Regions from separate parts of the Homo sapiens genome. Here region 2 is linked to region 1. Evidence: fine-mapped expression QTL. A gene starts in region 1. The other region holds a variant in brackets. All regions are shown on one strand. Distances are between the middles of the regions. Region 1 holds the start of DOK7 (docking protein 7). Region 2 holds the start of LOC105374355 (vegetative cell wall protein gp1-like).

Region 1 (5,352 bases):
GCAGTCCATGTCTTGGGCCAGATCCCTCGGGTTTCTGAGTTTCAGCTTCCCCCCACCATGGTGACTCCAAGACCCTGCCAGCTCCAGGACTCGGGCCCTCCCGGTGGCTTTTCTGAGCTGGATGAAGCCCCCAGGGGCAGCCCCTGTGGGAAGCAGGCCCCCTCAAGTGTCTGGCCTGGGGCCACACTCTCCACAGGATGTCAAGAACACTTTCCTCACCACCCCCAGCCCCCGCACCTGGGAGGAAGAAGAGAGGGGCTGGGCCAGGCGCCGCTGGCATGCAGGGCCACCAGCAGTGAGTCCTGGGCCACAACTGGACACAGACCACCCTCCTCCCCCGGGGCCCTGCCCAGAGAGGGGACGCAGACACGCATTCCGCAGTGAGGACGCGGTGGAGACATTGAGGAACGTGGTCCCACTGCAGGGCACCCTGCAGTCCCACACCGAGGCAGACGGCCCGACGTCCACTGGCCATGCCAGGCGCTGTGGCTGAGCAGCCCTTTGATAAAAGGGTTTCCCTTTCATTCGCTAAACCTTGTCATAACAGAAAGACGTGCTCACGATTGAGAAAAACGCAAGGAGGAGAAAGGTGCCAGTGGAAAAGGTGCACATCGGGGCCCTTCCCAGAAGGAAATCACCACTGGTAACAAAAAGAACCCTGCCTGTCTTACAAGGAAGCAGACGGGACCCTTCCTCTCTCCCTCACACCAGGAGCGCAGGGTCTGTGCTGTCTGCTCCTCCAGGGCTGGGGCCTGCTCCCTCCACGCCGGGCCCATCCACAAGGGAGGTGGTCTCCAGCGCTGAGCGGGAAGGCAGCTGGGTGAAGGCAAAGGGGGCAGCATCTAGGGAGGCTTATGAGGGGCCAGGGGAAGAGGCATCAGGGCCTCTGAGCGGAGAGGAGGTGCCAGGCTGGCCTGGTCAGGGTGGGGAGGTGGGCGTGAGAACTCCGCTCTGTCCCATCCCCTCATCTGACCGACCTCTGGGCAACCCCACAGGGTGTCAGTTTCAACCCTGGGCTGCTGGAGTGACCAACACAGAAAGCAGGTGTCCAAAGCAATGGGTCCCAGGCCAGTGAGTCAGTGGGTGCTAGGGACACCTGGCCTCAAGGCTTGGAATGAACATCCACCCAGAGGGGGCATGGCACCTTCTACTACCCCACATCACCTCCCACGCCAGCCCCAGAAGGCTGCAGATCTCAACTGCGCAGGATACGGGATAACCCAGCAGACGCTCGGGAGCCACCATGTTCACCTACAGACTCACAGATTGTCCCACCTGGGGGACCCATTGCAAACTCCTGTCACTCCACTCAGGCACTCACCGGCCGGGGGAGCACACCCTCTTGAGGCTGGCAGGCCCTGCCTCCTGGGACTGTCTGATGCAGAAAGAAAATCCCTCCAACAGGGACAAAGACTTCTCCCCCGACACTCCTCTTTGGGGGCTGCTGTCCCGGGTGCCTTCCTGGGATGCGGCCTCTCTGGAGGGTCTGCACCGGCTCCAGCCCAGCACCATCCACCAAGCATCACCTGCCCCACCACGGCCCCGACCCAGCCACAGCTGACTAAAGCCTGTCATCCGCCCCAGCCTGGCAGGGCCTCTCACTCTGCCCAGACCCCATCCCTTCCTATACCAGGTCCCCTGCAGCCCCGGAGGACAAAGACGCCCTCCCAGGCTCTGTCGGTGCCCCCACAGCTCCAGGCAGGAGGTCTGGGCACGGAGGGCTGAGTGGAGAAGTGACCAGCGTGCAGTCCAGGCCCTGCAAGGGGAGGCGGAGGCAGGCAGGAAGTGCTTTCCTCCAGGACCACCTGAGGCCCTGCAGAGGGGACGCAGGAGGGATCCCTGCCCCACACCCTCCCTGGGAGTCACAGACACCCGTCCTGGAGGGTGCTCTGGCAGCCCCCTGGCGTACAGCCCCCCATGCACACAGGCCGAGCATCCCACCCAGACCCGGGCCTGGCCGGCTCTGCCGCACCTGTCCTCTGGAGCAGCTGCAGGCCCGGCTCAGCCCTCCCTACAGGCCCAGCGCTGCAGGCGGCCTGGGCTGCCAGACCTGGGGGCTCCATGCTGACCCTCCCCAAGCTGGGGTGCTGGCTCAGGGCGGGGACTGGGGGGGGACCCCTGCCTCCTCCCAGAGGACTGTTCCCCCAGCAATGTGGCAGTCACTCTGCCCTGCCCTACCGCAGCCCAGCCTCTCGTCTGCCTGGGAGGGGTCCAGGGTCAGCGCTAACCCACGCAGCACCCCTGGAGGCTGGGTTCGGGGGCCCTGCTCTGAGCGTTTCCACAAGCACAGCTCAACCCTCAGGTATGTGGGGCTTTGCTTCTGGGGGGCCCCTTGCTGCTCTGCTGGGGGGCTCAGGGCCTGCGTCCCCTCCGCCTACAGGGCCACCAGGCAGCCCCTCGGGCCTCAGTCTGCCCTGCTGGAAAGAGGGTTCTTCCGTCCAGGGCCCCCACCTGCGCTCCCAGGGGCGCCGGGGGGTCCGGGTCCGCACGGGGCTCTCGGGTTTCCCGGCGGGGTGACAGCGGCGGCGATTTTGGGCAAGCTGGCATTACTGCCCCGGGCCTCGGTAACCCGTGTCGCTACCCCCGCGCCCCCCGTCCCCCGCCCGCCCCGCTCACCTGCCACGGGCGACGGCTTCCGCAGCACCAGCCACCTACTCTTCCACTGCGGGGACAGGGGGGAGCGTGAGCCGCCGCCCGCGCCCGCGCCCCCCCCCCCCGCGCCCCCGACGCGCCCCGACCTTCTTGCCGTCCCGCAGCTTGACCTGGCCCTCCACCAGCGCCGCCTCGGTCATCTTCTGTCATGGTTCCGCGCCGCCGCGCTCGCCCCGGCGCCCCAGCCCAGGGTCACTTTCAAAATAGCTCGCAGGGCCCTGGGCTGGGCCAGGAGGGCGGGCCCGCGGGCAGGGCGGCGACACCGGCGACTCCAGGGCCGGCGCGGGCGGGGCTCCTTCTCCTGCGGGCGGCTCCCCCACCCCCACGGGCCCCTCTGGCCCCACCGTCCCGCGGCGGCCACTGGAGCCGCCCGCCCTCTGGAGCAAGCGCACCATCTGGGCTCAGACGCTCAGACCAGCGCCTGGCGGGGCGGGGGTCGGGCGGGGACTTCTTTTTCAAAAAGCAGAGACAACCACCTAGCAGACATCGGCCCCGCTCTGGGCACTGCTCCCAACTTTAAAGTTGGTCTTCAAACAATCCGGCTTCCCAGACTGGCATCTGCCCCTACCCCAGGGGTCACTAGACACCCGGACAACAGACTGGCCACAGGCAGCCCAGGCCTAGGATGCTCTCACATCCCCAGGCTTCCCCCACACTGAGGTGACCCCTCCCCAGGCAGGCAGTAGGGGTCGGGGAGCCCCTGGCAGCCTCTGTCTCTTCCTCCATTTCTGTTCCCATTAAAAGCCTGCAGGGACCCCAGTGCAGGTGGGCGGGTCCAGGACCCACAGTGCCGCCTCAGGGCCCCAGGTCTCCACCTCTTCTGCCCCCATCCCAGGCAAGAGCAGGCCCTGGTTAGGCCAGCCGGCTCCGATGGGCAGAGGAGCTGCCTGCTTTGTAAAGGACCTGCCAGCAGCCCTCCCAGCTGGGTGGACTTTGCGCTTCTGGACTCCCCCTCCTTGACCCTGTGGCTCCAGTCCAGCTGTCCCCAAGCTCTGGCCTGGGCATTAGATGTCACATCCAGGTTCTTCTGCAGAGAGGCCATGTGCTTTGGGGGACCTGGCAGGTCCGTGCCTTGGGTGTCAGCCCCATCCGAGAGACGGCCTCCACCACCCTGGGGTTGGGGACACCCAGCAGATACGGGAACAGCAGTGGGGAGGGGCGATGGCACCCTAGAAGATAAGCACCTGGACAAACAGCAAAGCTCCGTCCACATGCCCTACCCTAGACCCCATCCTCACGGGGCTGACGGTTCTCGGGGGAGAAGAAGGAAGGGGTAGACAGTGTCCCGTTAGGGAGGAGACGTCTTCATTTCATCCCATCCAGACCCTAGGCTGGGCTCTGTCTGCCTCGCACTGAGGAGCAAATGGAATCAGGGCAGCGTGAGGCCTCACAGCCAGGACTGAGCCACATCGGCTGACCTCAGAGCAGGGCTCAGAGGCATCGGGAGCCCTGGGCGCCCCTCCCCACTGCCCCTGTGATCCAAGAGACAGGTCTCCGGTGGGCCACAAGGGTTGGCTTTGGTGCTTCGGTGATGTCTTGTCAGGGCCTCATGCAAGGCGGGGGACACCAGGCCCAGGAAGCAGAATTTTGCATCCCCCACCCACCCCCGCAGTCACCTGTGCAGCCACCAGCCGCCTTCCGCAGAACAGTTGCTGGGTCACAGAGCCCCATTCATGCTCCCCACACATCCCAGGCCCCCAAGGGGCTGGCCCAGGACAGCCGGTGCGGAGGCGGGGGCCGTTGGGGCTGTAGCCACAGACACATCCGCTGCCCTGGGCGCCTGGCACTTGCTTATCCCTACAGGGAGAGGCAGGGCCCTGCTGCATTCCTGAGTGCTGGCCCGGGCCCAGGCTCCTGCCATGCCTGGCAGCTGCACCTGCTCCCACACAGCCTGGAACACACAGGATGCCGGAGGGTAGACAACTCCCTTCCCTGCTCCATGCGGCTCCAGGGCTGCTGAAAGGTGGAGGAAGCTTCCTGCAGGAGGAGGAGGTGGCCTGGCTGCCACTCCCAGACTGGCCGAGAGCGCTGTGACCCTGGGCAAGCTCCTGCCCCGCTCCGTGCCTCAGAAGTTATAGCCAGAAGTTTCCCCAGAAGTTATAGCCAGGGTTGCTGGTTGCAAATGGAGAAATAGGCTGGCCACTGAGTAGGAAGGGGTTGATTGGAAGCAAATCAGGTCTCCAAGAACCAAGGGGAAGGCTGGAGAGCTGGTAGGCAGTGAAAACAGAGCCACATCCTGAAAGAGGAGGACACCACAGCTCAGCCCCACAGCACAGCTGGGCTCCACACGAGGGGCAGGGTCACCACCTTCAAAGGAGCCCACAGTCTCAGGTCACAGCAGCACCCCTGTCTGACCACAGAGCCCTGCTGCGGCTGCCATGCTGCTGCTGGACACTGTGGCCAGGGACACTGCCATCTCTGCCAGACCCCATGGTCGTGGCACATTGCCACCCGCCAGTGGCTCTGTGGCCAAGGGACCTGTCCCTGACTAGCCACACCACCTTCAGCCACCATGTGATCTTACTGGTCTCAGCTTCCTCTTCTACCTTGATACTGTGATGAGCCCCAATGAGATGGCGTCCATGAGCATCTTTCAAAATGATCCAGGGTTTTCCAAGGTGATTCCAAGGGGATGATGGGGACCAGGGGTGGGCTGCTTTGTCTTGCATCTCCAAGTGGCCTGGTGTGTGGGAGAGAAAC
Region 2 (5,352 bases), 23 kb before region 1:
CGGATGGAGACTCATACTGTGCCCAAGGCTCAGAGCATGGTGGTCTGCGGACCCTCGGCCCCACCTAGCCCCTCCCCTCAGGGCTGCATCCAGGGAGCACCAGCCTCGCCTTCTCTATTCATCGTCCATGTGTCCTCTGCGACTGAGTGGCAGGAAACCTCCCCTTCCTGCCCAGGCAGGGTGGGACCTCTCACTGGCCCCTCAGCACCGCTGCTGCGAGCCTCAGCATCACTGCCCTGGTCCCCAAGCCCCCGCCCATGCTGGGATGTCCCAGGCACTAAGTGATGTGAACACTGGGCCAAGTGGCTACCTTGCTCCAAACAGCAGGGCTCAAGACCCTGCCCCTTCCACATCCACAGCACCCACGGCCACAGCCATCCCAAAGAGTTTCCCTGGCAGGGAAGCCACAGCCACACCCGCAAGAGCAAACCGACCCCGTCCTGCTCCAAGTGGCCTCCTCTGGGCCTCCAGAACACACCTCCTGACACCCACCTTGGGGGCACCTGCAGGACTGAGCCGAAACAGGTCCAAGGACCTGCTCTCCCCAAAGTCCAGGAGCAGTGGCAGCATGAAAAGTTTACACCAAATTCTGCAGCGCACAGAGGACCAGAAGGTACAGTCCCCAGCCTGGGACACCTAGATCAGAGCCTCAGCGGACAGAACCCAGCCTGGCGGAGGCTGGAGCCAGACGTCCCGACCCCATGGTCAGCGCTCCGGAGAAACAAACAGAGAAAGCAATGGTGTCCCTGTCCAGGTTCACATCTAGGCTGAAGAGGCCCTGTCCCTGATAGGACACTGTCCTCTGCTGATGCCTTCAGCCCACACAGGTGCCCAGCTGGGGCCCTTGCTCACTACAGGAGACCCCATCAGGACCTCAGAACAGGGCCCTCCCCACGGGCAGGTGAGAGCTCACAGCACCGGGCCCAGGAACACAAGAAGGGCCTGGAGGAGCCTCCCCCACCTCTGGGTATGGCCACCCCAAGGCACTGCCCCGGTCAGCCTGGGGCCCTGCCAGCCCAAGACCCTGTGGCCCTGTCTGTAGCATTGCCGGGGACAGGGATGGGGGTGGCACAAGCCTCTCTCCTGTCCCCTCCCTGCCTGTGCCTGGGAGGGTGGAAGGCGATGGCAGCCAAGGCTGTGCCAGCTCAGGCATCAGTCCCTCCCGACACGGCCTGCTGGTGGCCATGGAGCCCACAGGCCACACGGCTTAGCAGCTCCTGGCACTTTCACAGACACATTCAGCCACGTGGGCAGGACAGCAGGCACCAGTCCTGGCTCCTTGGTGCACTGAGGGTCCAGGCTGAAGACAAGCACAGTGACAGGACAGCACAACTGCCCCTCAGCCCTGGGACATTCCGACCAGGGCCACCCTCAAAGCCAATGCCCCACAGGTGGGACGGAGAGTGGCCCCTCGGTGACACCAGGGTCAGGATGCAGGACACAACCTCCCACCATTTCCCGTCCAGTAACTGGTGGGCCAGCAAGACACGGATCGACTCCCAGCTCCACCACACGCCCCCTGAGCCTCTCACCCTCGTCTGCAAAATGGGGTGCAGCAACGGTGCACCCCCGTGGAGGCCAGGCCAAGAAGGTAACATGCACGCCATACTCGGAGCATGGTGGACCCCAGACCTCTGAGCCCTTCCCTCCTGCTCCTGGTGGGTCTGGCTGCCTCTGGGACTCGGTGTCCACATGCGGAAGACCAAGGGGCTGGACTTCCTGCATCTCTTGGCCCCTCCAGTGGGTCACAGCGGGCTCAGCACAGGAGGACGGCAGAAAGCCCAGAGCTTGAGGATGCCGCCCGCAGGGCTCTATTGTGGGAGTCCTGTGATCACGGGGCTCCAGTGTGCTGCCAGCACAGGCAGACGAACCCATCAGCCCAGACCCTCCAGTAAGTCCAGCCTGCGGGGGCTGGGCCCACGGCTTCTCTGGTGGGGTGCTGCCCAGCATAGTGTCCCAGCTCAACCCACCTCCGGGTGGCCTGAGGCCCCCACACACCTGCAGAGGCACAGCTTGGGGGCACAGCTGCAGGCCGAGGCCCTGACAACAGAGCTTTCTGAGAGCTCCCAGCTGACTCTGACAAAGATGTCCTGTGGAGTGGGGTCTGGGACTTCTGGTCAGCCCAACCCCCTCCAGCTGTCAGCAATGGCCCCGCCTGGGGCTGGCCCACGTGCTGCCTGCGGTGGAGCCTGTCCCATCTAGTGGCTGTCCCAGGCAAACCCTCCCTGGCATCCTCTGCCCAGTACTGCTTCCCTGCTTCCCTCTGCTCCCCGGGAACTGCCTGAGGGGAGCAGGAGAGAGCAGGGAGCCCTGCTCAGCCTCCTGCTGCCCCTGCCCGGCCCTGTCCCCGCCCTGCACTCTGCACACCCTCGCCTTGCACAGCCAAACACACCGACCACATCATCCACGCTGACCACACCATCCACACCTGCCTGCAGCCGCTAGGCAGGAAGACACCTGCAGGGGTGCATCCACTAGGCAGGAAGACACCTGCAGGGGTGCATCCACTAGGCAGGAAGACACCTACAGGGGTGCAGCTGCACCATCCAGCATGGCAGGGCAGCGGGGAGGGCGCTGGCCATAGGTGCCACCTCCCCACTCCCAGGGCTGCCCCCAACGGGACTTTGCTGGTGTGGGCAGGGGGCATTGGGGGCTGTGGCCAGGAGAAGGGAGGCCCAGGTCCCACCCCACATGCTGCTCGCCTCTGCCCTCCCAGTCACCCTTCCCCGCCACACCACGGCGGGGGTGCCAGTGCCAGGAGGCGCCACATGTGAGCTTGCTGCTCACCCGCCACATGGCCTAGGCCTTGGCCTCACTTGGACGTTGGGTCAAGCGCTGCCCTCGTGGAGCAAGAGGAGCATTTGAGAGAGCCCATGGAGGCACCTGGCCCAGCACCCGCCCCGACCTGGGGAGCCCCACCGTGCCCAGGCACCAGAGCCCCTCTGGGGTCCAGCAACATCCCTGGCCAAGGACTCCTGCAGAGAGTGCCGCAGCCACAGCCAAGGAAGTGTGGGTGAGACAAGACGAGACCCCCTCAGCCCAACGTGTCCTGAGACCCCACAGCCAGGGGACCTCCCGAGGTGGCCTTGGGCCTAAACAC[C/T]GGGCTCAGGCAGAGCCAGTCCCGACCCCAGCTGCAGAGTCAGACCAGCTGCCCCCGGGCCACCGAGCTCGGGCAAGGCCTTCCCTGCTCCTGGGCGTGGAAGATGGTGGTGGTGGGTCAGAGGGTCTCTTACTGCACAGTGGCAGCTGTGGCTGACTGTCCCAGCCAGAAAGCTCTAGGGCCAAGCGTTCCAACAGCTCGGACCCCCGAGGGAGAGCACCTGCAGGTACGAGCCCAGCCCCCGCTGCTCTGAATCCCTCAGCAGGGCTTGCAGAAGCCCAGGCTGCAATCCTGGCCTGGAAAGGTTCTGGTTCCTTAGCTGGGGGTGGGGAGGCTGGCCATCTAACTGGGGCTGACAAATCACTGTGGCCCCCCGCCCCGGGACGTCGCACAGCCTGCCGAGCGCACCCTCCCCGGCCGGCCAGGCTCCCACACGCACCTGGTAGAACCGGCCGCAGCCCAAAGGGGCCCTTGGTGGGGGAGATGCCTCGGACGATGCAGTCGAACAGGAAGCTGATCTGCTCCCCCTCGGCCGAGGACAGGAAGAAGACGCCAGCCCCTGCAGAGGAAGGACAGAGACAGGTCAGTCTGGCCCGAGGGCGGGCTGGGGACCCTGAAGAGGAGGAACACAGGAAACCGCAGCAAACTCCACCAAGAGCCGACAATGACACCCTGCCTGGCCCCACGAAGTCAGATGCCCAGAGCCGACACCCCGCCTGGCCCCGTGAATCCGGGTGCCCAGAGCCGACACCCCACCTGGCTCTGTGAAGCTGGGTCCCCAGAGCCTCTGGACTCCCCAGGGACCCCGCCGCACCCTTCAAACTTGGGCGCTGGGGTGAGTGCTGCCCCGCCCATCCTAGGTCCTGCAGCCGACAGGGCATGGGGAGGAGGGAGGGGGTGCCCTGCCCTGGACAGATGGGTGCCCCCGCCCACATACCTGCCTTCCGGGCTTGCTTGGGGGGATGGGGGGATGTGGCTGCTCTGCCACCCAGCAGGCACTTGATCAGTCCCTCCTCTGCCCCAAGGTCCCAGCGACCCTGCCCCCACAGCCGTCTTGAGGGCAAATGAAGCAGCCAGGAGACCCCAGAGACATCAAGTAGGGTCCCCTCAGGGCTCCAAGGCCACAGGAGAAGGGAGCTGTGCCACCTGGAGCTGGGGTCACATCCCAGGAAGGCTGCCATGTGACCACACTTCCTTCCCCCGGGCTGTTGGGAGGGCTGCATTCAGATGTTTGTAAAAGGTGTGGCACGGCACCTGCCCACACATGCTGCAGCCGTCACTGCTGGCCAGCACCGCGTCCTCCCCACCTCCTCGGTCATCTTTCAGGGGAAGCTGGAGCTGCCAGTGTGTGGGTGCTGCCCTGAGGCCGTGTGCAGCATCCTGGGGCCAGCATCCACCCCTGCACCCCCACAGCAGCAGGAGGGCCCCCAGGGACCAGCCCAGCGTCACTGGCAGAGCGATGCAGCCGCCACCCGTGGAGAAGCCCCAGCTGCGAGTCACGGGGGCGCTGCCCTCCCGGCCAGGGGTGAATGAAGCCCTGGCGGCCGCGTGAATGGGCCACTGGGCTGGCTGCACCCGGCTGGACACTCCGGCTGGCGTCACCTCACAGGAATCCCGCCCGCTCCGGGGCCTCTGCCCATTGCCCAAAGAAAGGTACGCAGGAGGGAAGGCGCCGGGGTGGGCAGGAGTTGGGGGGAAGGGAAATCTCGGCATTAGAACCCCCGCTGCCTGCTGCCCAGTCATGCTCTGCCTTCACGGAACACAGGCTGTAGATTCCAGGGACACGGAACTCAGGCCAGCCCCGACACGTGGCGACGCTGCCGGCCCCTTGGCAGCCACCCCGGGCACACGAGGGCGAGCGGCACCTTGTGCTGTGGATGCTTCCTTCCACGTAGTGTCCCCAAACCGGGTCATGGGACAGCGCCATTCCTACTTTAGCAAAAAGGACACTGAGGCCCAGAGAAGGCACGCCACCTGTCCACCATCACACAGCCACGAGGTGGACTCAAGTCCAAGTCCCCTGGCCCCCTGTGCACCTTCTGGCCCGATAGAGCTTCCAGTCCTACTGTGGGTGAGGGGTGCTCCTGATCAGAATTGGAGGTGGGCATGGAGGGGAGGCCAATGCCCGCTGCGATGCCATCCAGGAGGATGCCCCGAGAGGCTCATGAGGGCCGTGATGGGGTGGGGCCCCCAAGCTGGGTAGGGTGGGCAGAAGAGAGCCTGCACCAGGCCCTGGGGGCAGGCAAGGAGAA

What was found.
Region 2: its variant is fine-mapped to the expression of DOK7 in whole blood (TOPMed, PIP above 0.99).

What each region holds. Positions count from the first base shown.
Region 1 is chr4:3,460,816-3,466,167 of GRCh38, reverse strand. It overlaps DOK7 (docking protein 7), which reads right to left and starts at 2,862. Exons shown (of 7, transcript NM_173660.5): 1 at 2,739-2,862; 2 at 2,617-2,662. The coding sequence starts at 2,792. RefSeq lists enhancers at 1-319, 3,237-4,084.
Region 2 is chr4:3,483,846-3,489,197 of GRCh38, reverse strand. DOK7 (docking protein 7) reads right to left here. Exons shown (of 7, transcript NM_173660.5): 5 at 3,540-3,659. It overlaps LOC105374355 (vegetative cell wall protein gp1-like), which reads left to right and starts at 4,361. Exons shown (of 3, transcript XR_007057994.1): 1 at 4,361-4,753. RefSeq lists enhancers at 2,643-3,609, 3,611-4,810. The variant C/T (reference allele first, on the strand shown) is at 3,101.